4 separate regions of the Homo sapiens genome follow, and regions 1, 2 and 3 are each linked to region 4. The links come from fine-mapping of genetic effects on gene expression. A gene starts in region 4. Each other region holds a variant in brackets. All regions are shown on one strand. Distances are between the middles of the regions.

Evidence for each region. PIP is the estimated chance that this variant, and not a neighbour inherited with it, causes the effect.
Region 1: its variant is fine-mapped to the expression of MAPK13 in testis (GTEx, PIP 0.97).
Region 2: its variant is fine-mapped to the expression of MAPK13 in whole blood (TOPMed, PIP 0.92).
Region 3: its variant is fine-mapped to the expression of MAPK13 in whole blood (TOPMed, PIP above 0.99).

Annotation. Positions count from the first base shown.
Region 1 is chr6:36,793,489-36,798,649 of GRCh38, forward strand. CPNE5 (copine 5) reads right to left here. Exons shown (of 21, transcript NM_020939.2): 5 at 4,967-5,006; 6 at 4,677-4,753; 7 at 1,102-1,161. Among named protein-coding and RNA genes, the nearest start is that of CPNE5, 43 kb to the right of the region's middle. RefSeq lists enhancers at 1-635, 636-1,300. The variant C/T (reference allele first, on the strand shown) is at 1,980.
Region 2 is chr6:35,992,117-35,997,277 of GRCh38, forward strand. SLC26A8 (solute carrier family 26 member 8) reads right to left here. Exons shown (of 20, transcript NM_052961.4): 6 at 394-558. It overlaps LOC105375035 (a long non-coding RNA gene), which reads left to right. Exons shown (of 7, transcript XR_926747.3): 7 at 302-465. Among named protein-coding and RNA genes, the nearest start is that of SLC26A8, 30 kb to the right of the region's middle. RefSeq lists an enhancer at 984-1,497. The variant C/T (reference allele first, on the strand shown) is at 2,084.
Region 3 is chr6:36,084,526-36,089,682 of GRCh38, forward strand. The region is part of intron 8 of MAPK14 (mitogen-activated protein kinase 14); the gene reads left to right. Among named protein-coding and RNA genes, the nearest start is that of MAPK13, 43 kb to the right of the region's middle. The variant C/G (reference allele first, on the strand shown) is at 2,912.
Region 4 is chr6:36,128,254-36,133,414 of GRCh38, forward strand. MAPK13 (mitogen-activated protein kinase 13) reads left to right here and starts at 2,260. Exons shown (of 12, transcript NM_002754.5): 1 at 2,260-2,448; 2 at 3,018-3,147; 3 at 4,368-4,426. The coding sequence starts at 2,330. RefSeq lists silencers at 2,156-2,405, 2,446-2,515, 3,156-3,265 and enhancers at 2,411-3,014, 2,906-3,025, 3,736-3,985.

The sequences.
Region 1 (5,161 bases), 670 kb after region 4:
CTCCGCCCCATGTTTCTCCATCTGTTCCTCTCTTTGCCTCTGAGTCCTTCTTCTATTTCCGATCCTTCTTTCCCTCCTCTCCAGCCCCAACCTGCTCCCACCTTCTTGGCCTTCCTTTCTCTCTCTCCCTCCCTCCCTGTCTTTGTATCTCTGTCTGACTCCTGCTGCCTCCCCAGTTGCTGCTTCTCTACTCTCCAGGTGAATTAGCATCCATGCTCTCCCTGGGCTGTGAGCATCCCCGGGCCCGCCGGAGGCCCCTTCCCCACCTGCAGCTGGTCCAGTGGCATATCCAGCTGCTGCAACCTCAATTCCTGAGAGCTCTCAGGGAAGGCCAGGGGAGCTCTGCTTACCCCAACAAAATGCCCTTCTGCAGAGGCCCCTCCAGGCAGAGGTTCCCTGCCCTGCACACCCCCACCTCCAGCCCCAGTGGGCGAGTGGGCGTGAGAAAGAAGCCAGGGTGGGAACTCCCCAACCGGGAAAGAAGGGGAGGGAAGGAGGGGGAGGCTCTGCGTTGGCCACATTTGCATGAGGCCAGCCGAAGCCAGATGGTCAGGGTGGTGGAGTGAGGCTGGCCCACCGCAGCTGGCGAGCAAACGAGCAAACGTGAAAAGTGGGGATTCAGCTGGATCTACTCTGTGGTGAGGAGGAGGCGGACATCCAGCAGCCAAAACAAGGGAGGGGAACAGGGGGGAAAGGATAAAGACAGGGGAGGAAAGAGGGGGAGAGAAGGGTGGGGATTGGGGGCCTAGAGAAGCCAGGCCAGGGAGAGAGGAAGGGAACAGAGAGTGCCCAGCCCCGCTATTCATAGACAACATCCCCCACCTGTAAGCCCCACCCTCTCCCTGAAGTCCCAGGAGCCACTGGGGCTTGAGATGCCCAAGCTCTAGCTTGGATGGGGGAGGGGCCCACTGCCGAGTGGGGGCCTCTGTTCAGGGCCCAAAGAGCCTGGGTGCCTAAGGAGGAACCCAGGACTCTCTGTCCCCGGATCAGGGCCAAATTCGCAGTGATGGGAGCAGGGACGAGGCCCAGACTCTGAGGCCCCCTTTGCAGAGCTGGCTGAATGTCTAAGGACTCCAGGGCCAGAGATGTCTGGCAACGTACCCGTTGGACACAGCTGGCATGGGTTTGCCCGTCCTGGAATTCAGGCTGAATGCGCCTATCCTGTGGAGAGAGAGGGGGAGAGAGAGCATGCCATGAGCTGAGTACCCCCACCCAGACAGGCCAGCGCACTTGGCATCCAGATGCTTGGAGACAAGCGGCTGCTCTGGAAGTCATTAAAACAGGATCAAAGCCACAGGCCAGAGCAAGTGGAGTCCTTCTTCTGGGCAAATTCCTCTCCTTCAGTGGTTCTCAAGGTGGGATGCCCAGACCAGCAGCACCAGCATGTCCTGGGAATGTTATTAATAGGAATGTAAATTCCCAGGCCGAGCCCATACCCACAGGATCAGGAACTCTGCGGGGTGGAGCCCAGCAATCTTTGGTGACACTGGTACCTGCTGCAGCTTGGGAACCCCTGTTCTCCCTTTCCAGACTCCGCATCCAGACTGCAAGATGGGGAGACTGCTGGAAGAATCACATGAGATCATGATATGGGCTGAACTGTATCCCCCAAAATTCATGTATTGAAATCTTAATCTCCAGGTCCTCAGAATGTGACTATATTTGGAAATAGAGTCTTTTTTATTTTTTTATTTTCATTTTTATTTTTGAAACAGAGTCTCGCTCTGTCACCCAGGCTGGAGTGCAGTGGCGTGATCTCGGCTCACCGCAACCTCCACCTACCAGGTTCAAGTGATTATCCTGCCTCAGCCTCCCAGGTAGCTGGGACTACAGGCACGCACCACCATGCCCGGCTAATTTTTGTATTTTTAGTAGAGACGAGGTTTCACCATGTTGGCCAGGATGGTCTCGAACTCCTGACCTCAGGTGATCTGCCCACCTTGGCCTCCCAAAGTGATTGGATTACAGGCGTGAGCCAC[C/T]ATGCCCAGCCTGGAGATAGGGTCTTTAAGGAGGTAATTAAGGTAAAATGAGGTCATGGCAGTGGACCCTAATCCAATGGCTGGTGTCCTCATATGAAGAGGTGACTAGGACACAGAGGTGCACAGAGAGATGACAATCTGAAGACACAGAGATGAAAAAGAAGACAGCCATCCTCAGAAGACATGAACTCTGTTGACATCTTGATCTCCGACGTCTAGCCGCCAGAATTGTGAGAAAATCAATTTTTCTTATTTAAGCCACTCAGTTTGTGGTATTTGCCACAATGGTCCCAGCGAACTAACACAGATTTCACAAGCAAAACACTGACCCTCATGCCTGGCCCAAAATAGATGCCCAGTAAACAGGAGCTGTTCACAGGGTTTAGTCAGGAAGACAACTAAACTAAGATATGTGAAATCTTCGATGGGGTAAAAGGTCCACCTCCTCCTCCAACATTGCCGTCAACCTCTGTATTTTATTTTATTTTATTTTATTTTTGAGATGGAATCTCGTTCTGTCACCCAGGCTAGAGTGCAGTGGTGTAATCTCAGCTCACTGCAACCTCCGCCTCCTGGGTTCAAGCGATTCTCCTGCCTCAGCCTCCCTAGTAGCTGGGACTACAGGCATGTGCCACCACGCCAGGCTAATTTTTGTATTTTTAGTAGAGACAAGGTTTCTCCATGTTGGTCAGGCTGGTCTCAAACTCCCGACCTCAGGTGATCCACCCGCCTCGGCCTCCCACAGTGCTGGGATTACAGGCATGAGCTACTGAGCCCTGCCAACCTCTATATTTTAGAACTTGCTTGTCCTTTAAGGCTCAGTTTCAAAAGCCATCTCCATAGGAAGTCTCCCTCAATACTCCCCCACCCCCAGAGGGTGTTTCCTGTCACCAACGGTGGACCAGGTGAGATCAGGAAGGAAACAGACCCAAATGACTAGTGGCTTTGGACCCAGGCAGCTGGGAGTTGGGAAGCACAGACACCCTCCCTCATAGGGCATCTCCATCCTGGCAACCCAGGTAAAGCCACGGGTGGGGGTGCTGCTGGAAAGAGCAGATGCTAATGGGTATGCTACACTCAGCACATGGTTAACACTGAAGTGGGCACAGGGGCAGATGTTCCTAGAGAAAGAATATAAAATTACGAATGAAAACTGTTAGAAATAAGTCCTAAGAGGGAGGGGCCTAGCAAATATGAATGTGAATTTTGTATGCTTTTTTGCAAGAGGCCCTCAAATTCTATAAGCTATAGAGACCCCCAAAACAGGGGTTTTCCCCCATTCTCAATAAATGATAGCTATTTTCACTGTTTTCTAGGAACCCAGAGATGAGACCTTTTGGGGGCCAAGGAAACATTTCCGGGGGCCCTGAAGTTATCATGAGTTACTGGGGGTCACGGGCAAGGATCTGGAAGAGAGACCACACACACACACATTGCAGTTATTATTATTATTATTATTTTGAGACAGAGTCTCACTCTGTTGCCCAGGTTGGAGTACAGTAGCCCAATCTCGGCTCACTGCAACCTCCTGGGTTCAAGTGATTCTCGTGCCTCAGCCTCCAGAGTAGCTGGGACTACAGGTGTGCACCACCACACCCAGCTAATTTTTTTGTATTTTTAGTAGAGACAGGGTTGCACCATGTTGGCCAAGCTGGTCTCGAACTCCTGAGCTCAGGCGATCCATCGCCTTGGCCTCCCAAAGTGCTGAGATTACAGGCGTGAGCCACCGTGCCCGGTTCACACTGCAGTTATTGATCATGGTGAGGGGACAGCGTCCAGTGGGAACTTGGCAGAAGATCTGATGATCTCCCTTTCCCGGCCGCTTTGCCCTGTGGCCTGGATGCCTGTCCCAGTCTGCCCTCTCTTTCCTGGGCCCTGCCCACGAGTGTCAACCTAAAATAATCAAAAGCCTCGGGATCCAGTTAAATTAGTTTATTTAAATGCAAAGTGTGAGGGTGGCCGTCCAGAGAAATATGGACACCAAAGAATGGTGACCAGTGTTCCCCAGTGTGGGGAAAGGTAAGAATCGTTTATACAGGCAAGGGCCCTGCCCCTGGTACTTCCTGAGAAATAGGGACAAGAGAGGTCACCCTCACCACACGGCCAGCCCTGGCTGGTCCCTGAAGACATCATCAGGCTCCACTGTGAGAAGCCTTGGATTCCTCATCCCAGAGCCCGCTTCAGAGTAACAGCTTTTCCCTAAAAGCAAATTAAGGTCAGGGACCATCAGGGACAGGATGGGACGGGAGGAGCCTCACTGTACCCAGCTCTGGCCTACAAGCTGTGAACAATCTTAGGAATATGCTATGTGAGTAGAGCCCTGGGTTCAAATCCCAGCTCCCAGCTCTCCCTCTTCCTAGCTGTGTGTCCTTGGGCAAGTCACTTCCCCTCTCTGGGCTTCAGTTTCTTCTTCCACACTATGATAGGGGTCAGGGTGGGAATAGACTATATGGTGTCTAGTCTATTTCCTCCTGGGCCTTCCCAGGAGATGGGACTCTAATAACCCATCCTGGGTTCCCCTGAAATACCTGGATTAGAAGCCCTGTGAGAGCAGTGAGGCATGGGGTCTCTTTATTCCTAATAACCCTGCAGATGCCAGTCATAGCCAGCTGACTGCTTTGTCCCCATCCTGAGCCAGCCCCCAGCAGAATGGGCGGGAAGTTGGCCTACCACTGGGAAAGCAACCCAGACACTCACGTGAGGGGCTTTTCCAGGCGGCTCCCAGGGGACCCCACAATCTCTCCAAGGGTGCAGAAGGCCTGGCCCAGGAAATCCTGCATATCCAGGGAACAGAAGAGACCAGTGTCACCCACTCTGCTCACAGCTATCCCACCTCCCCCATCGCCCAATTCCTGGAAGCGTGAGGGCCCTTAAATGACAGGACGCAGCGTCGGACACACATTCCATCACAGCAAAGCCCCAGGCTCACCCAGAGGATGGCATTTCAGAAACTATGGAATTGCTGAGCAGTTACTGGCAGAACTCACGTGTTTGGATAAATCAGGACTCTTAGAGTCAACGTCGTATCTGCAGGGAACACAGAGAAACGATGAAGGCAGCTGCGGACGTTCTGCCCAATCCTGCCTGGGTTCTCAAGTTGAGTCAGGGCCCCTGTCCCCCAAAAAACAGGTCCCAACACAGTGAATATTTCTAGGAGTAATGGTTGGAAGACATGACAGGGA
Region 2 (5,161 bases), 140 kb before region 4:
CTTAGCTCCTACCCTATTCTTACATTTAGGAACTACTTAGTCTTGTATATCCTTTAGATGTTTTAGGATACATGTCTGTTATAAGATAGGTAATGAGAAGAACTGTGATAGATACAATATCTTAAAGGCCAAATTTTAATGTATATCATGATAGTTTAAAAGGCTGAGCTGAAATGGTTAGTCAACTGAAAGCATGGTCTAACTGGCATCTGCAATTAATCAAGACCCTAATTCTCCAATAAAGGAAAATATTTCTAGTACCCTCTTGACTGAGCTGCCTATAGGCTGTGTCTCCTTTCAGAAGGGGCGGGAGTCTCCCTACTGAGCTCCACTTTTCTTTGGAGGCAAGAGGAGTGGCATTTGTAACTCTGGGTAAGAGTTGAAATTACTCACATAGAAGAAGGAGATGGGACCGGCATGGAAACTAATCATAATCCCAAAGATGAAAGTCAGCTGGGACAGCATGATATGAAGTGCCACAGCAGCCAGGTAAGCACTCATTGCAGACTCCGGAAGGTAAGTGGCAATGAAGCCCAAACCCAATACGCCCATTATTAGCTGCAGAGAAGAGAAAACCAGAGTGGGGTAGAATGTCTTCAATCCAGCAATGGCACCAATGGCACTCTCCAGGAAAAGAAGGGTTTCCAATAGAAAAGTTAAGATAGGCCCCTTTGGTAACTCTTGTAACTCTCTTTCCCTAATGAACAGAAGTTGATAACACGGGTCCTTGTATGTTGATCAGAGGCTCCCAACAAGTGCTAGCTCACACTACTCCTTTCCTTCTTTGTGAGCAGTCAGCTCACTTAAGTTCTTGCCCTAGAATCTACTGCTCTCTAGGTTGACTTGGGGAAAACAGGGACAAGGTGATCAGAACAAGCCTTTGCCTATTTATTTATTTATGAGACAGGATCTCACTCTGTTGCCCAGGCCGGAGTGCAGTGGTGCAATCATAGCTCACTGTAACCTCAAACTCCTGGGCACAAGGGATTCTCTGCTTCAACTTCCCAAATAGCTGGGACTACAGATGCTCACACTGGGCATTTTTTTTTTTTTTTTTTTTGATAGAGATTGGAGGGGGGGGTCTTGCTATATTACCTAGGCTGGTCTCGAACTCCTGACCTCAAGTGATTCTCCTGTTTTGGCCTCCCAAAACCCTGGGATTACAGGCATGAACGCACTGTGCCTGGCCTGCCTTTGCCTTTTTAAACCTCTTTCATTAGAAGCTTTGATAGCCCTTTTCAGGAGATGTTAACATTCCTCTGAGGAATGCAGCTTTTCACAAAGGAGAAGAGAATTTCAAAACAGTGGGATCGAGCTCAAACTTCTTGGCCTTTGACTCTTATCTTTACTGAGAATAATTAAATTGAATTTATTTATGTTTTCAGGATTATGCATATCCTGAAGGAAAATAAAAAAGGTATTTTACATGTCAATATGCATATGTAAAATTTATGTTATATAGTATATAATAAAATTTTATACACACAGGATCTAAAAGGATAGACCTCAAATGATTAACAGGAATTACCTTTGGGGAATGGGGTTAGATGTTGGGGACAATATTTGATAATTTATACACTTTTTTACTATTTGAGATGTTCGTCTTTTATAATAAAAACCACAATTAGGTTGGGTGTGGTGGCTCATGCCTGTAATCTCAGCACTTTGGGAGGCTCAAGTGGGAGGGTCGCTTGAGCTCAGGAATTTGAGATGAGCCTGGGCAACATGGCGACACTTTGTCTCTACAACAAGAAAAATAAAAAACAAAAAGAGGGTAGGTTAAGAAAACTGGCACAGCCCAATGAAGACTTTTCAGTAAGCAGGGTGGAAAGGAGCAAAACAGAAGTCTTAAAGCTTACAATCATCACTTCACTCTCCACTCCACTAAAAGCTCTCAGAAAACAAACAAATTTGGAACAATAAATCATTTTGCTTTAACAGGTTTTTGTTTCAAAGCTTTCAATCAGCCCGGCACTGTGTCTCCCTTTTTTTTTCTTTTCTTTTTTTTTTTTTTTTGAGACGGAGTCTTGCTCTGTCGCCCAGGCTGGAGTGCAGTGGCGTGATCTCGACTCACTGCAATCTC[C/T]ACCTCCCAGGTTCACGCCATTCTCCTGCCTCAGTCTCCCGAGTAGCTGGGACTACAGGCGCCCGCCACCAAGCCCGGCTAATTTTTTGTATTTTTAGTAGAGACAGGGTTTCACCGTGTTAGCCAGGATGGTCTCGATCTCCTGACCTTGTGATCCGCCCGCCTCGGCCTCTCAAAGTGCTGGGATTACAGGCGTGAGCCACTGCGCCCTGCCAACTGTCTCTCCCTTAATCTCCTGTCATTGCCGCCCAATGTTCTATTTTACTCTAGTCAGGCCAGTCTGCTTCCTATTTCTTGCGTGACTGGCTGACTCCTACTTCTGTGCTTATGCATGAGCCCCTCTTTTTTCCATCTCTGCCAATCCATGTGCATCATCTCTTTTTTTTTTTTTTTTGAGACGGAGTCTTGCTCTGTCACCCAGGCTGGAGTGCAGTGGTACAATCTTGGCTCACTGCAACCTGTGCCTCCCAGGTTCAGGTGATTCTCCCACCTCAGCCTCCCGAGTAGCTGGGATTACAGGTGCCCAGCACCACGCCTGGCTAATTTTTGTATTTTTAAGTAGAGACAGGGTTTCGCCAAGTTGGCCAGGCTGGTCTTGAACTCCTGACCTCAAGTGATCCACCCGCTTTGGTCTCCCAAAGTGCCGGAATTACAGGCGTGAGCCACTGTGGCTGGCCTGCATCATCTTTCAAGAGCTCAGTAAAATTCCTCTCCTTTAAGGAGTGTGGTGAAAAAAGCATGGTTCCTGGGCTTGGAGAATCTGGCTTCAGTCCTGGCCCAGCCACTCATTGGCTGTGTAAGTGTGGGCAAGTTAACTCTTTGAACCTCAGTTTCCTCATCTATAAAATGTGAATAATATTCAATGTAAAGTGTTTTGAATAGATTAAATTTCATCACACATGTAAAATACCTAGCTCAGATGTGAAAATAGTGACAAATATGTATCACTCATATATGCAAATATATGTTACTCTTCTTCATACCATCCCTGCCTTCCATCTTGTAAATGGCAAAAATCTGCAATTGCCTTAGAACTCTTTCTTGCCCACTGTAATATGGCATCACGTTCAGTGTTAACATAATATTCTAGGCAGCCACTGTTAATCAGTCAGGGTTGGCCTGTGAGATGAAACCTATCTGCCATTCTTATAGGAAGCCAGTACTAAATGTTGAATGAATGAAAGGGAGGGCTCAATAAATAGTTGTTTCCTTCCCAGATAACTTCGACTCAACTAGAGGTTATTTTTTAACTTCATGTTCTTTTGGCACTAAACTCTTATATGAATATTATTTTATGCTTAAGATTTCCTAGAGCACAGATTCTACAATCAGACAACCCTAAAACTGAATCCCAGTTTGGTGTCTTAGCTATGTGACCTTGGGCAATTTTCTTAACCTCTCTATGCCCTTGTTTTCTTAAAATAAGGACCATAGTAGTGTGCTACAGGCGTGCACCACCACACCCAGCTATTTTTTTTTTTTATTTTGTTTTGTAGAGACAGAGTTTGCCTATGTTGCCCAGGCTGGTCTCAAACTCCTGGCCCCAAGCAATCCTCCTGCTTCAGTCTCCCAAAGTGCTGGGATTACAGATGTGAGCCACCATGCCCAGCCCTCTTCCTTTTTTAGATGAAAAAAGCTGAGGCTTGAAGGAGAAGAGAAAGCATGCATGAGGCCCCTTGATAATTAAAAGGTTGCTTGTGTATTTTGTCTTATCCCACAAGATTAAACTTTTTAACCACAGGAAACTATATATTGTTTTTTAAATTTTTGGTCTCTGTTAAAGTACCAAATTCATTTCTCTGTGCCCACTAATTATAACTTATTGATGCTTACTATGTGACAAGCTCTAGGCTAAATACTTTGCATGCATTTTTTTCACTAAATCCTCCTAAGAACCCTGCAAAACAAATATTATTCCTGCTTTATACATGAGGAAACTGAGGCCCACCAAGGTAAAATAATTTACCAAAATTCACACAGCTCATAGTGTCAGGGCTGGAGTCTGCCCACTTTGATAGCCTGCCTTTGTAGGTACCCAATAAATCTTTACTTAGTGAAAGACAGTCCCAGGGGAGATCAGTGAAAATCAACTAGAGACTGGGTTAGTTGAGAAAAAAGAGAAATAAGCCTGGAGGATGTGACTAGTTCAGTAGATGAACTTTTGGTGATAGACTCTCAGAGGAAATTAAAGACAGAGCCAAAATAAGTTTTGAGATTTTAATGAGTCATTCATATTATTGTCCTTTAGCTGTGGTCCTTGTCAATGCAGAAAAAGGATTCCAGATCTGGCTCTAAAGCTTACTAACCCAAAGATAGTGTGTGAGCCTGTGAGGCCATCATTATTTTTATTATTATTATTATTTTGGAGACAGGGTCTCGCTGTGCCACCCAGGCTGGAGTGCAGTGGCATGATCACAGCTTACTGCAGCCTCAACCTCCTGGGCTCAAGTGATCCTCCCACCTCAGCCTCCTGAGTAACTGGGACTACAGGCACATGCTACCATGCCCAGCTAAATGAGTCCATTCTTGTTGATAGAATATAAAGCAACTTTTGGCTGGGTGCAGTGGCTCACACCTATAATCCCAACAGTTTGGGAGGCCGAGGTGGGTGGATCACCCGAGGTCAGGAGTTCAAGACCAGCCTGGCTAACATGGTGAAACCCCTTCTCTACTAAAAATATAAAAATGTGCTGGGTGTGGTGGCATGCACCTGTAATCCCAGCTACTTGGGAGGCTGAGGCAGGAGAATCACTTGAACCTGGGAGGCGGAGATTGCAGTGAGCCACGATTGTCCCATTGCACTACAGCCTGGGCAACAAGAGCAAAACTCCATCTAAAAAAAAAAAAAGAATATGAAGCAATTTTTGAAAAGGTAAGATCAGGAGTGGAGCTCTGGACTAAGAGTCCCCAGACCCCTGGGGCCACCGACCAGTACTGGTACTGGTTTGTGGCCTGTTAGGAACCGGGTGCTGCACAGCAGGAGGTGAGCAGCAGGCAAGCAAGCATCACTGCCTGAGCTCTCCACCTTCTGTCAGATCAGCCACAGCATTAGATTCTCAGGGAAGCACAAACCCTATT
Region 3 (5,157 bases), 44 kb before region 4:
ACATGAGAACTTCATAATGCAACCACAAGTATCAATAGCCAAATAGACCAAGTGGAGGAAAGAATTTCAGAGCTTGAAGACTATCTTGCTGACAAGATAAGAGAAGAATGAAAGGAAATGAACAAAACTTTTGAGAACTATGGGATTATTTAAAAAGACTGAACCTGCGAATGATAGGGGTACCTAAAAGAATTGGGGAGAATGGAAACAAGTTGGAAAACACACTTCAGGATATCAGCCAGGAGAACTTCCCCAACCTAGCAAGACAGGCCAGCATTCAAATCAGGAAATCCCTAGAGAACCCCAGTAAGCTACCCCATGAGAAGATCAACCCCAAGATACATAATCATCAGATTCTCCAAGGTTGAAATGAAGGAAAAAATACTAAGGGCAGCCAGAGAGAAAGGCTAGGTCACCTACAAAGGGAAGCCCATCAGGCTAAGAGTGGACCTCAGCAAAAACCCTACAAGCCAGAAGAGATTCGGGGCCAATATTCAACATTCTTAAAGAATTTCCAACCCAAAGTTTCATATCTGGCCAAACTAAGCTTCATAGTCAAAGAAGAAATAAAATCCTTTTTAGACAAGCAAATGCTGAGGGAATTCGTCACCACCAGGCCTGTCTTGCAAGAGCTCCTGAAGGAAGCACTAAATATGGAAAGGAAAAACTTACTGGCCACTACAGAAACACACTGTTTTCTTTTACCAGTAACACTATGAAGCAGTTACCTCAACAAGTCTGCAAAATAACCAGCTAGCATCATGATGATAGGATCAAATTCACACATAAAAAATATTAACCTTAAATGTAAGTGGGCTAAATGCCCCAATTAAAAAACACAGAACGGCAAGCTGGATAAAGAATCACGACCCATCAGTATGCTGTTGTATTCAAGAGACCCATCTAACATGCAAAGACATACAAAGGCTCAGAATAAAGGGATGGAGGAAAATTTACCAAGCAAATGGAAAGCAGAAAAAAGCAGGGGTTGCAATCCTATTTTCTGACAAAACAGACTTTGAACCAGCAAATATCAAAAAAGACAAGGGCATTACATAGTGGTAAAGGGCTCAATTCAACAAGAAAAGCTAACTATCCTAAATATATATGCACCTAATACAGGAGCACCCAGATTTATAAACCAAGTTCTTAGAGACCTACACAGAGACTTAGACTCCCATACAATAATAGTGTGAGACTTTAATACCCCACTGTCAATATTAGACAGATCATCAAGCAGAAAATTAACAAGGATATTCAGGACTTGAACTCAGCTCTGGACCTGATAGATAGCTACAGAACTCTCTATACAGAAACAACAGAATATACATTCTTCTTAGCAGCACATCGCACTTAGGCTAAAATTGATCACATAATTGGAAGTAAAACACTCCTCAGTAACTGCAAAAGAACTGAAAATATAACACACAGCCTCTCACACCACAGCACAATCAAATTAGAACTAAGATTAAGAAACTCACTCAAAACCACACAATTACGTGGAAATTGGACAACCTGCTCCTGAATGACTCCTGGATAAATAATGAAATTAAGGCGGAAATCAGAAGTTCTTTGAAACCAATGAGAACAAAGAGAACATACCAGAATCTCTGGGACACAGCTAAAGCAGTGTTAAGAGGGAAGTTTATAGCACTAAATGCCCACATCAAAAAGCTAGAAAGATCTCAAATTGACACCCTAACATCACAACTAAAAGAACTAGGGAACCAAGACCAAACAAACCCTAAAGCTAGCAGAGGACAAGAAATAACCAAGATCAGAGTGGAACTGAAGGAGATAGAGACAGGAAAAACCCTTCCAAAAATATCAGTGACTCCCAAGATCTGGTATTTTGAAAAACATAAAATAAAATAAAATAGACTCCTAGCTAGAGTAATGAAGAAAGAAGAATCAAATAGACACAATAAAAATGATAAAGGGGGTATCACCACTGACCCTGCAGAAATATGAACAACTATCAGAGAATACTATAAACACCTCTATGCAAATAAACTAGAAAATCTAGAAGAAATGGATGAATTCCTGGACACATATGACCTCCCAAGACTGAACCAGGAAAACGTTGAATCTACCAATAACAAGTTCTCAAATTGAGGCAGTAATAAATAGCCTACCAAGCAAGAAAAGCCCAGGACCAGACAGATTACAGCCAAATTCTACCAGAGGTACAAAGAAGAGCTGGTACCATTTCTTCTGAAACTATTCCAAACATACAAAAGGAGGGACTCCCCTATAACTCATTTTATGAGGCCAGTATTATCCCAATACCAAAGCCTGCCAGAAATACAACAGAAAAAGAAAACTTAAGGCCAATATCCCTGATGAACATCGATGCAAAAATCCTCAGTAAAATACTGGCAAACCAAATCCAGCAGCATGTCAAAAGCTTATCCATCCACCACGGTCAAGTCAGCTTCATCCCTGGGATGCAAGGCTGTTTTAACATATGCAAATCAATAAACATAATTGATCACATAAACAGAACTAAAGGCAAAAACCACATGATTATCTCAATGGATGCAGAAAAGGCCTTTAATAAAATTCAACATCCCTTCATGTTAAAAACTCTCAGTAAACTAGGTGTTGATGGAACATACCTCAAAATAAGCCATGTAAGACAAACCCACAGCCAGTATCTTACTGAATAGGCAAAAGCTGGAAGTATTCCCCTTCAAAACTGGCACAAGGATGCCCTCTTTCCCTACTCCTATTCAACATAGTATTGGAAATTCTGGCCAGGGCAATCAGGCAAAAGAAAGAAAGAAAGGGTATTCAAATAGGAAGAGAGGAAGTAAAACTCTGTTTGCAGGTGACATGATCCTATATCTAGAAAACCTTGTTGTCTCAGCCCAAAAGCTTCTTAAGCTGATAAGCAACTTCAGCAAAGTCT[C/G]GGGATACAAAATCAAAGTGCAAAAATCACAACTATTCCTATACACCAACAGTAGGCAAGCAGAGAGCCAAATCATGAATGAACTCTTATTCACAACTGCTAAAAGAGAATAAAATACCCAGAACTATAGCTATTAATAACAAGGGAAGTGAAGGACCTCTTCAAGGAGAACTACAAACCACTGCTGAAGGAAATCAGAGAGGACACAAACAAATGGAAAAACATTCTGTGCTCATGGATAGGAAGAATCAATATCATGAAAATGGCCATATTGCCCAAAGTAATTTATAAATTTAATGCTATTCCCATTAAACTACTGTTGACATTCTTCACAGAATTAGAAAAAAACTTTAAAATTCATATGGAACCAAAAAAGAGTCCATATAGCCCAAACAATTCTAAGCAAAAAGAACAAACCTGGAGGCATCACACTACCTGACTTCAAACTATACTACGAGGCTACAGTAATCAAAACAGCATGGTACTAGTACAAAAACAGACCAATGGAACAGAATAGAGATCTCAGAAATAAAACTGCACATCTACAACCATCTGATCTTCAACAAACCTGACAAAACGAGCAATGGGGAAAGGATTCCCTATTTAATAAATGGTGCTGGGAGAACTGGCTAGCCATGTGCAGAAAATTGAAACTGGACCCCTTCCTTACACCTTATACAAAAATTAACTCAAGATGGATTAAAGACTTAAATGTAGAACCCAAAACGATAAAAACCCTAGAAGAAAATCTAGGCAATATCATTAAGGACATAGACATGGGCAAAAATTTCATGATGAAAACATCAAAAGCAATGGCAACAAAAGCAGAAACTGACAAATGGGCTTCTGCACAGCAAAAGAAACTATCGTCAGAGTGAACAGACAACCTACAGAATGGGAGACAGTTTTTGCAATCTATCCATCTGACAAAAGTCTAATATCCAGAATCTACAAGGAATTTAAACAAATTTACAAGGAAAAAACCCATTAAAAAGTTGGCAAAGGGCCAGGCACAGTGACTCATGCCTGTAATCCCAGCACTTTGGGAGGCTGAGGCAGGTGGATCACGAGGTCAGGAGATCGAGATCATCCTGACTAATTTGGCGAAACCCCATCTCTACTAAAAATGCAAAAAATTAGCCAGGCATGGTGGTGTGCGCCTGTAGTCCCAGCTACTCAGGAGGCTGGGGCAGGAGAATGACGTGAACCCAGGAGGCGGAGCTGGCAGTGAGCCGAGATCACACCACTGCACTCCAGCCTGGGCGACAGAGCGAGACTCCGTCTCAAAAAAAAAAAAAAAATATTGGCAAAGGACATGAACAAACACTTCTCAAAAGAAGACATTTATACAGCCAACAAACATGAAAAAAAGCTCAGTGTCACTGACCATTAGAGAAATGCAAATGAAAACCACAATGAGATACTGTCTCATGCTAGTCAGAATGGTGATTATTAAAAAGTCAAGAAACAACAGATGCTGGTGAGGCTATGGAGAAATATGAACACTTTTACACCGTTGGTAGGAATGTAAATTAGTTCAACCATTGTGGAAGACTGGTGAAATCCTCAAAGACCTAGAACCAGAAATAACATTTGACCCAGCAATCCCATTACTGGGTATATACCCAAAGGAATATAAATCATTCTGTTACAAAGATACATGCATGTGTATGTTGATTGCAGCAGTATTCAGAATAGCAAAGACATGGAATCAACCCAAATGCCCATCAGTGATGGACTGGATAAAAAAACATGGTACATATACACCATGGAATACTATACACCCATAAAAATGAATGAGATTGTGCCCTTTGCGGGGACACTGATGGAGCTTGAAGCCATTTTCCTCAGAAAGCCAAACACCACATGTTCTCACAAGTGGGAGCTGAACAATGAGAACACATGGACACATGGAGGAGAACAACACACGCTGGGGCCTGTTGGTGGGGTGGGGGTCAGGCGGAGGGAACGCATCAGGATAAATAGCTAAGGCATGCGGGGCTTAACACCTAGGTGATGGATTGATAGGTGGAGCAAACCACGATGGCACATATTTACCTATGTAACAAACCTGCACATCCTGCACTTGTATCTCAGAACTTTAATTTAATTTTAAAAAAATATAAGAAATACTCATTTTTGTCTTAAAGCCAATAATGTGTTATCAGATTAGAAATTATTCTTGTTTGTGACTTTGCAGAACCCTTCCATCTGGCCTAATGATAGCATTATTATTTTTTAAAGAA
Region 4 (5,161 bases):
TTGAGGAGCAATTCTGTCAACTCTAGGCCACCGCATAGCCTCGCAGCCAAGAGCAGGGACTCTAGAATCAGGCTGTACTTGCTTTCACCCAGCTCTGCCCTTACCAGCTGTGTTACCTTGGGCAAATTACTTAGCCTCTCTGTACCTCGGGTTCCTCATCTCTAAAATGAGGATAATCATATTACTGACTCACAGGCCTCTTACCAGGATTAAGTGAGTTATATAAAACACTTAATGACGGGCACATGGCAAACACAAGTGTGTATTAAATGACTCTTTTACATCTAATGGGCTGACTCCTCCATTCATTCTCCACACATTTGCTGTTATATTGCCATGTGCCAGAAATGAAAAAGACAGATTGCCTGACTGAAATAATGGCAGGTGTTGTTGTGTGATGATGGCACCCCACCCTCATCTCAGAATGATCTTCCAGGCTGTGCCTGAGGCTGCAGGACTGCCCGGGAGGGCTTGGGGCACAGAGTTTGGGGGCTGCAGACTCCCTAGTGTGGGCCCCCGGCTTGCTGTAAGCCCCTAGCAAATTTCTTTCCTTGTTCAATAGACCTTCTTTTTGACAAAGTGAAGCAGGTGGTCCCCGCCCCTTCCACAGCCCCATGCCTGGGCAAGAGAGGGGTTGGACAAGTCAGGCTGGGCATCCAGAGCCCTTGCAGCCATCTCCTCCCCCCACCTGCCCACCTTGCTCCTCAGAGGCCTTTGTGGTTTGAGCAAAGAATCTCCATCAGGCTGCACAGGCCACCAGACAGGTGGCAAGGGCCCCAATTAGTCATTGTCCTCATAGAGCCTTAGGAAGTCCACAGAAACTGTGTTCAAAACTGCACATTTGGGCCAGGTGCGGTGGCTCACTTCTGTAATCCAAACACTTTGGGAGGCTGAGGTGGGCGGACCACCTGAGGTCAGGAGTTGAAGACCAGCCTGGCCAACATGGTGAAACCCCGTCTCTACTAAAAATACAAAAATTAGCTAGGAGTGGTGGTGTGCACCTGTAGTCCCAGCTACTCAGGAGGCTGAGGCAAGAGAATTGCTTGAACCTGGGAGGCGGAGGTTGCAGTGAGCTGAGATGGCGCCACTGCACTCCAGCCTAGGCAATAGAGTGAGACTCCATGTCAAAAACAAACAAAAATCCTGCACATTTGAACCTGCGTGGATATTTGGTATTATAGAATTAGTGCTATTAATTTTAGGTTTAAGAATGTATTGTGGGCCAGGCGCGGTGGCTCACGCCTGTAATCCCAACACTTTCGGAGGCCGAGGCGGGTGGTTCACGAGGTCAGGAGTTCAAGACCAGCCTGGCCAAGATGGTGAAACCCCATCTCTATTAAAAATACAAAAATTAGCCGGGTTTGGTGGCAGGCACCTACAATCCTAGCTAATCGGGAGGCGGAGGCAGAGAATTGCTTGAACCCGGGAGGCGGAGGTTGCAGTGAGCCGAGATGGCAACTGCACTCCGACAGAGTCTCAAAAAATATATATATATAGTATTGTGGATACGTACTTTTAAAAATCCTTACGTTTTAGAGATACAAAAATATTTATGAATAAAATGATATGACGCCTGGGTTTTGCTTCAAAACGATGGTGGGAGAGGAATGTGGATGAAATAAAATTGATTATGAGTTGTGGTTGCTGGGGAATTGGGGTCACGGGGGTTCATTAGAACCTCCTATCAGATGTGGTTCAGAAGCCTCAGACCTGGGAGCTGGCTAGAAATGCAGAATCTCGGCTCCACCCCAAACCTACTGAGTCAGGATCTGTATTTTAATCAAATAAAATGCCCAGGGGATTCCTGAGCACACTGAAGTGTGAGAAGCGCTGGCTTACTCTGTTCAATTCTTTCCTGCATGTTTGACATTTTCCATAATGAAGAGGTTGTGGGGTTTTGTTCTGCTTTCCTGTGTGTTCACAGTCACAGGGAGCTCTTCCTACGGAGACCGGGGCTGGAGGGAACTGGGAAGCACTGCCTCCCCGCTCCTGCTTGGACCCACCAGCCCCGCCGCTGGCCCGCGCTCGGCTGGGAGGCACCGGGGTCCCGCTGGGCAGCCCCGACCCCGTGCCTGGGCCGCACCTGCCGCAGTGGCTCCGTCGGGCCGGGCGGAAGCGCGGGAGCGCAGGGCTGGACAGGCCCGGGCGTGGCGGCCCCGGCGCACCTGGGCGAGCCGGCAGGTGGGAGCGTAGCAGCCCGGGGCCCCCGCCCTCGCGCGGGGGAGGAGCGGGCGGCGCGGGGCGGGCGCAGCGGGGGTCGGGGCGCTGGGAGCCCGTTGGGCCGCGAACGCAGCCGCCACGCTGGGGCCGCCGAGATCGGGTGCCCGGGATGAGCCTCATCCGGAAAAAGGGCTTCTACAAGCAGGACGTCAACAAGACAGCCTGGGAGCTGCCCAAGACCTACGTGTCCCCGACGCACGTCGGCAGCGGGGCCTATGGCTCCGTGTGGTGAGACCCCTGGGCCGCTGGGGGGCGGGGGGCGGGCGCCAGGCTCTCCCCTTTCCGCCCAGCCCGCCCTGGGCTGGCCCCTCGCCAGCGCCACCTTGACCGCGGACCTCAAGGCCCAGCGCCCTCCCCGGGGCCACCCAGCGGCCATCTCCCTTTTCTCACCGAGTGGCTGAGTGAGGTCTCTGGGGGTTGAGTTGGGACTGGGCCTGGTTCTCCAGGACTGTACACTTGCAAGACCCCAGAGTTCATCGGGCAGATCCTCACTGTTACAGACGAGTACACCGAGGCCCCAAGAGGGGGAGGTGGCTCGCCAAGTTGCAGACAGAGTGAGACTCCCGCCCTGCCGTGGATCCCGTCGCAATGAGACGTTGCTGCCCCTGGCGCTGTGCCCCTCTCTCAGCTCCTGCCTGGCTTCCTACTCCCTGCCCTGCGTCCCGCGGCTCCCCCATATTCTAGGTGGTGGGCCTAGTCCCCTCTCAGCCCAGCTGCCCAGTGGGAGGGGTCAGGGCGGTCTGGGAGATACGGCCCAGGAGGAGAGCCTCGCCTGCTGACCGGCCTGTGCCCGACAGCTCGGCCATCGACAAGCGGTCAGGGGAGAAGGTGGCCATCAAGAAGCTGAGCCGACCCTTTCAGTCCGAGATCTTCGCCAAGCGCGCCTACCGGGAGCTGCTGCTGCTGAAGCACATGCAGCATGAGAACGTAGGTGGTGGCTGCCCCGGGGAGGGGGTGGGGGCTGCCCTGGGGAGTCAGGGGCAGGCGCAGGCGGGGCCTCCCGGTATGGAGAGCTCGGGACAGTCTCCTCCCTGCTCCCCTGACGGTGCCTCTCGCCTCACTATTGAAAGGAGGGGGTGCCGAGACCTTCCCTGCCCACTTTCCAGGAAGAGGTCAAAGGGTATTTTTGGCAGAATGCACTTTGTGAGGTACAGACTGTGTTATCCTACAGAGGAAATTGGCACAGGGGAACTTTGTAATTGGTTCCATGTCTGAGAGCTTGTGGCCAGCTGGGACTAGAATCCTAGTTAGCGTTGTGTCCACGTGACCCTGATAACAATAGCAATATACACATATTGAGCACTTCCTATGTTCTAAGAGCTCTGCATACACTAACTTGTCTAGTCCTCATGATATATGAGTACTACTGCCCCCATGTCACAGACAGGAAACTAAAGCACAGCAAGGCTCACAGATTAGATGGTTAGTCAGTAGCAGAGCTGGGGTTTCAATCTCGGCAGCGAGGCTCCCGGTCTGAGCACATGACCATCAGATTGTCTTGTCTGATAGAAGCAGCTGGGAAAACCAGGGGCCCAGCTCAGGGCCTGGCAGCCAGGCTTTGCTGCAGGATACCTAGATTGGAGGGCAGACATTTCAAAGAATGATTTCAAAATGTTATGTACATTTTAAGCCCATCCTTCTCCAGCAAACCCCTCCCCTATGGCCTCCAGCCAGGGTGATCTTGCCCTTGGCTCTGAACCAGCCCTGTGGCAGGCAAGGATGGATGTGGCTGGAGACCCAAGGTCAGGGGCAGGGAGTTTGCTGGCTGAAAAGCTCCTTCTCTGTTCCCTCCTTTTTCCCTTCCACCCTCCCCTTATGCTTTCCTGCTGCCTAGGTGAGTTGAGAGTGGGTTTGTGTTGCTTGCCCTGACACCAGACTTGACAGCAATGAGCACACATCATTCTCCCCACCTTCCCTTCTCCCCAGCCTGACTCTCTGTCATGATTTATTGCAAACTCCCTCCAAATCCAGGGGATTCCTCTAGGCCTCTGCCCTTTTTACTGCTTCCAAGAAGGTTGGAGACATGCCTCCTGCTGGAGGTGGTGTATTAGGAAAGGGTGGATGGCCCTGTGCATGGCCAGGGCCCAGGAGGAGGTGGGAGGAGAAGGTAGCGTCTGTCTAGCCCTCACAGGTGACTTCTTCCCCAGGTCATTGGGCTCCTGGATGTCTTCACCCCAGCCTCCTCCCTGCGCAACTTCTATGACTTGTGAGTTGGGCTGCACTGGGTTCTGGGGCATTTGCAGGCCTTACATGCCGCTGGGGAGCAAGGTGGGGGAGGGTCTAGGGTTTCTATTCCGGGTGTGGCGGGGAGAGCCTCCTTCCCTGGCAGTCCTGTGCCTTTGCCTGTCAAGTGTGATTCTCTCTGGAAAGATGCTTTTAGCCAAAGGCAGGCAGGAAGAGGCAGGAAGGACTTTGTGGGGTGCTTGCCTGGCAGGGGGCAGTCTGCACAGCTGCTTTGCTTTTTACCCAGCTTTAACACCATGAAGACACATCTGCCAGTCCTCACAGGGTTAGCACCAACTCACCTTTCCTGGGGACACAGATGTGAGTCTGGACCTTGGAGCTCTTTCTAGCATGAAGCAAGGATTAAGAAGCCTTGGCTGCCTCTGGCTGATGGGGGTGTTTGACAGAATGGCAGAAAACCAGAATATTTAGCTGCAAAATGTATAGCTTTGCCTGTGCAGTGTCTGAATGAGACTGGACTATTTGGACAAGATGGAGAAGTCAGTGTGGCACGTGGAGGCCAGCAGCTGGCTTGGTCAAGCTGAATCTGGACTGACCCTACAGGCAGCCTCAAGACCTGGGGACTTTGAGCCGGGAGGTGATATGTTCAGATGGGATTTGGGGGATGCACACTGGCAGCAGCAAGAAAGGAGTAGGAAGCAGCTCGGAGGCAGAGGGGGAGAGCCTGGAGGTCAGTGTTAGTGATCTAAAGTAGGGA